2 separate regions of the Homo sapiens genome follow, and region 2 is linked to region 1. A link means that fine-mapping ties the variant in region 1 to the plasma level of a protein whose gene starts in the linked region. Region 1 holds a variant in brackets. A gene starts in the other region. All regions are shown on their forward strands.

Region 1 (2,500 bases):
CTGAATTCCTAAGCCAGCAGTGGAGAAAGCCAACAAACCACCAGAGTTACACCACAGTTCCAACACCCATAATCTCACCCTGCCCCTCCTCTGCCCTGGAGAGAGTAAAACAGAGTGTCCCAGGACTGGCAGACAAGAGGCACAGTTATCAGGAAGTACAATACTGAAAATACGGAGATTAAATGAAAATCTACATATTGAATGAAACCTGCACCTGCCTCCCAACCCCCCTTCCCACCCAAAGCCCGCTTCCATTAATAGACCTCTAGTACAGCCAGGCCAATACCCTGCAAATAGGAGATCAGACATTTTCCTAAGGGATCTGACCAGGCCAAGATGAATCAAGATACTGACATTATGGGACTCCCAATAAAATGTCTCAGCGGATCACATTACAGCAAATCCCAAAAACAATAAGACCCAACCACCCACTCAGAACTACTAATCATCTGTCTGATATTTCACTCTTGAACATCAGCAAATAATCAAAGATTACCAGACATCTGAGGAAAGCCTCTAATTTGAAAGAGATCAAAACAAACAAAACTAAAGTCCACCTGGAAGAAATAGGACTATTCCAGACAGAAGAAAACTGTTATTAATACTGTTACAGAGATAAGATAGTATATCAATAAAACAAGAGAAATGGTATTTAAAAATATATTCTGAAAAAAGAATTTAGAAATTAAAAACCCAAGAGTAGAAATTAATAACTAAGAGAAGAATTAAAAGATGGTTGAACTGGGCAATGGCACCTGTAGGTATACATAAGAGAAATAAAACCATGTTCACACACAAACTTGTCCATAAATGTACATAGCAGCATTATTCACAATAGCCAAAAGGGGAAACAACCCAAACGTCCATCAACTGACGAATCCATGAGTAACTGTGGTATATCCACACAATTGTATTATTCAGCAATAAAAAGGAATGAAGGCCAGGCGTGGTGGCTCATGCCTGTAATCCCAGCACTTTGGGAGGCCGAGACAGGCGGATCACCTGAGGTCGGGAGTTCAAGACCAGCCTGACCAACATGGAGAAACCCCGTCTCTACTAAAAAAAAAATACAAAATTTGCCAGGCATGGTGGTGCATGCCTGTAATCCCAGCTACTCAGGAGGCTAAGGCAGGAGAATCGCTTGAACCTGGGAGGCGAAGGTTGCAGTGAGCCAAGATCATGCCATTGCACTCCAGCATGGGCAACAAGTACGAAACTCCATCTCAAAAAGAAAAATAAATAAATAAATAAATAAAAAAGGAATGAAATTCTTTTTTCCTTTATATTTTTTATAGACAAGGA[T/C]AGATCAATACAAAAAAAGGAATGAAAATCTGATACATGCTACAACACAGGTGAATCCTGAAAACATTATGCTAAATGAAAGAAGCCATTCACAAAGGCTATATATTTTATAATTCCATTTATATGAAATGTCCAGAATAGGCAAATCTATAGAGACAGAAAGTAGACTGGTGTCTACTTTCCATTTGTAGACTGGTGTCTACAAATCTATAGAGACAGAAAGTAGACTACCCTCGAAGGGCCGAGGGTAGAAGAAATGTTGAGTGAGTGCTAAAGGGCATGGGTTTTGAGGAGGTGATGAAACTATTCTGAAATTAGATCATGGTGATGGTTGCACAACTCTATGAATATACTAAAAACCACTGGATTGTGCACTTTAAATGGGTAAACTGAATGGTATGTGAATTACATCTCAATATAGCCACTGTTTTTTTAATGATTGAAGAAATCACCCAGCAAGTTGAACTAAAAGAGACAGAGATGATCAAAAGTAGGAGGCAAAATAAAATTAGAAGACTATTCTAGGAGTTTCAACATCCAAACAACAGATAGTCCATTAAAAAAAGAAGAAGAACAGAGAAAACAAAGGGGAAGAAATTAAAGAAATAAATTTCTTTGAACTGAAGGACCTGAGTTTCTAAATTGAGAGGGCCTGCCAAGTACCCAATACAATGAATGAAAATAGACGTATCCCAAAGGTCTGGAAATTTCAGAACACTGGGAACGAAGAGAAAATCCTACAGGATTCCAGTAAAGAAAAACCAGATCACCTATTAAAAGTCAAGATCAGACTGCCTTCACACTGTTTTGTTTTTTGTTGTTGTTGTTGTTGTTGTTTTGTTTTGTTTTGGTACAGACAGGGTCTGGCCATGTTGCCCAGGCTGGTCTCAAACTCCTGGCTTCAAGTGATCCTCCCACCTTAGCCTCCCAAAGTGCTAAGATTACAGGCATGAGCCACCATGGCTGACCTGACCCTCACACTTAACAGCAGCACTGGAAGTTGGAAGACAAAAGAGCAATGCCTTCAAAATCTTTAAAGGAAAATTATTTCCAATCTAGAATTCTATACTCCTGCAAACTACAAATCAAGTGTGATAGCAGAATAAAGGCTACTAAACAATGTCCCCCACCAAAATGAGGGAGTAAACCAAGCAAGAAGATATGAAACCCAAGAGGTATCCAACACAGACAGGTAAGG
Region 2 (2,996 bases), not on the chromosome of region 1:
GGTGTCCAGGGTTGTGGCCAAGATTAATGATAAATGAGAAGGAGAAACAGGCCTGCAGACTTGGCCAACCAGTTCAAGGCGCCGCACCTCTCCGTTCCAGTCCAAACCCCTGGCACTGGGGTTTCTGAAGTGGGGGTCCTCTGCAGGAGGAAGGCAGAGGTGGGTCCCCCCTTCCACTCCCCGCCCCAGGCATTCCCAAGGGCAGCCCCGGGTCGTGGCCCGAAGGCTGAGGGCTGAGTCACAGGAGGAGGAGATACTGCAGTCACGGGAGACACAGAGCCCAAGACAAAGATCGGATGACCCAATCCCGCCTCCCCCACCCCAAAATCAGATCGGCGGTGTAAGGCTGGTGGCGGTGGGGTAGCAAAGGCTCTCTCTCCTCCGTGATGGGCGTGTCTCGTCTCTTTGGCCTTGCTTTGGGAGGGGCCGCCTCACACCCCCACAGACCACGGGGCTGCATGTGACCAGGACTCTGGCACGGCCGCTGTGCCCCCGCCCAACCCCGACGACATAGCCCCTCAAGCTCCCTCGGGGAAAGGGGGCACTAACCGTCACTCATAGTCACAGACCACAATTACCCAGAGAGTGTTTGGTGGGTAGGGGTACAGGTGTGGTTTTAATGGGGGGGGGGGGGGGGGGTGGGGACGGTAGTGTGGTTGTGCGCATGCGCATGGGCACCTTATTGTTTTCCCCCCCACCAGCACAGCTTCTGGGCGGCGGCCACAACTAAAAATGGTTGGGGAAGGGGCGATAATTTCGTCTCCCCTCCCCACATAAATGCCGCTCTCCAGGAGCCCCCAAACACAAGTTCCTTGGCTACGCTTTCCACGCTCGTGCACCCAGGTCCGCGCCAGTTTCTCCCGCCCTGCCACACCCCCGGCGCTCGCCCACTCGTGCCCCACTGCCCAGTGGCCTGCGCAGCCCTGCCCTGCCCTACGCAACCCGCTCACCTTGCGGTCGCTGACTCCCTCGCCCACTGCGATCACAACACCCGCGCCCTCCATGCCCGGAGTGACAGGCAGAGGCGGGAGACGGTCGTACAGCCCCTGCCTAGCCATGAGGTCTGCGAAGTTGAGCCCGCAGGCCCGCAGACGCAGCGTCAGCTGGCCGGGCCCAGGGGCCGGGGGCGCTGCCGGCCGGCTCTGCAGCTTCACCTTGTCGTAGCCTCCAAAGCCGGTGAGCACTAGGCAGCGCAGCAGTGGCGGCGAGGCGGCGGCGGCGGCGGCCCCTTCGGAGGCCGCGGGATGCTGGGGGTCGCTCGCTGCCTCGGTTTTCGGAGGCGGCGAAGAGGCGTCTTCCCCGGTCGCTGCCTCGGCTACCTCTCTCTCGTCGGACATGGCTGGGACTCCCGACGAGAGCGCACAGCTGGATGGAGAGTGCACAGCTGGGGAAGGCGGAACGCGTCGGGAAGAGCCGCGGCTGCGGGATCCAGCGGGAGGGGCGGGGCGCCGGGCGAGGCGGGGCCTCGCGCTCAGCCTTAAAGGGCCAGGGCCATAGTGGCGCAAGCTGGGAGAGCACGAAAAGGGGCACCAGGAACGTCTGTGCTCTTGGGATCAAGCCGACTGTGATTTATTTATTCATAGTAAACCTTATTCAAATTAAAAACTATTTTAAGGGATAGGCCTGGCGCGGTGGCTCACGCCTGTAATCCCAGCACTTTGGGAGGCCGAGGCTGGTGGATCATTTGAGGTCAGGAGTTCAAGACCAGCCTGGCCAACATGGTGAAACCCCCGTCTTTACTAAAAATAAAAAAGTTAGCCGGGCGGTAGTGGCGCGCGCCTGTAATCTCAGCTACTTGGGAGGCTGAGGCAGAGGAATCGCTTGAGCCTGGGAGGCGGAGGTGAGCCGAGATCGCGCCACTACACTCCAGTCTGGGCAACAGAGTGAGACCCTGTTAAAAAAAAAAAAAAAAAGGGCCGGGCGGCGTGGCTCACGCCTGTAATCCCAACACTTTGGGAGGCCGAGGCGGGTGGGTGGATCACCTGAGGTCAGGAATTCGAGACCAGCCTGACCAGTATGGTGAAACCCCAGCTCTACTAAAACTACAAAAATTAGCCAGGCATGGTGGCAGGTGCCTATAGTCCCAGCTACTAGGGAGGCGGAGGCTGGAGAATTGCTTGAACCCAGGAGGCGGAGGTTGCAGTTAGCCAAGATCATGCCGCTGCACTCCAGCCTGGGCTACAGAGGGAGACTCCATCTCGAAAAAAAAAAAGGCCGGGCGCGGTGTCTCACGCCTGTAATCCCAGCACTTTGGGAGGCCGAGGCGGGCAGATTACGAGGTCAGGAGATTCACCTGGCTAACACGGTGAAACCCCGTCTCTACTAAAAAATACAAAAAATTAGCCAGGCGTGGTGGCAGGCGCCTGTAGTCCCAGCTACCTGGGAGGCTGAGGCAGGAGAATGGCATGAACCCAGGAGGCAGAGCTTGCAGTGAGTCGAGATCGCGCCACTGCACTCCAGCCTGGGCTACAGAGCGAGACTCCGTCTCAAAAAAAAAAAAAAAAAGTTAAGGAACAGTCCCAAAACTTGAACTTACATCAGATTTGGAGTTAACTCATATCAGATTTGGAGTCAGCCACCTGTGGACTGGAGTCCAACTACATTGTGTCTCAGGCTCTGACATCTAACCCAGGCAGGGATGAGACTTAATTCACTGTGGTCTTGCAGTGGCAAAGTAGAAGCATGGAGACCAAGCCTTTAAAACTTTCTGACTTTGGTGTTAACGTTCTGTTCCTCATTTTCCCTTCTGTAACATAGTGATGATGCTGCGTGCTCTAGTTATATTTATATTTTTATTTTTTTGATACAGGGTCTCACTCTGTCACCCAGGCTGAGCGAGGTGGGGCGATCACAGCTCCCTACAGCCTCAAACTCCCGGCTTCAAGCAATCCTCCCACCTCAGCCTCCTGAATAGCTGGGACCACAGGCATGTGTCACCACGCCCGGCTAACTTTATGTTTTACTGCTCTTTGCAGAGCAGGGCTACCCCATAGGCA

Which allele goes with the higher level. Alleles are on the strand shown, and positions count from the first base shown. The strength of an association depends on the size of the effect and on how common the allele is.
For the plasma level of the protein whose gene starts at base 1,400 in region 2, T is the high allele of the variant in region 1 and C is the other (weak association).

The links. A credible set is the group of variants that fine-mapping cannot tell apart. PIP is the posterior inclusion probability: the model's chance that the variant is causal. The UK Biobank Pharma Proteomics Project read protein levels with antibody pairs (Olink). The fine-mapping took linkage between variants from a reference panel, not from the people measured, so its PIPs are less certain.
Region 2: it holds the start of VAT1, and the variant in region 1 is the best candidate, but not a certain one, in a credible set for the plasma level of the VAT1 protein (UK Biobank, PIP 0.65).

The regions. Positions count from the first base shown.
Region 1 is chr15:43,463,684-43,466,183 of GRCh38, forward strand. The region is part of intron 11 of TP53BP1 (tumor protein p53 binding protein 1); the gene reads right to left. Among named protein-coding and RNA genes, the nearest start is that of TP53BP1, 28 kb to the right of the region's middle. The variant T/C (reference allele first, on the strand shown) is at 1,303.
Region 2 is chr17:43,020,986-43,023,981 of GRCh38, forward strand. VAT1 (vesicle amine transport 1) reads right to left here and starts at 1,400. Exons shown (of 6, transcript NM_006373.4): 1 at 951-1,400. The coding sequence starts at 1,337.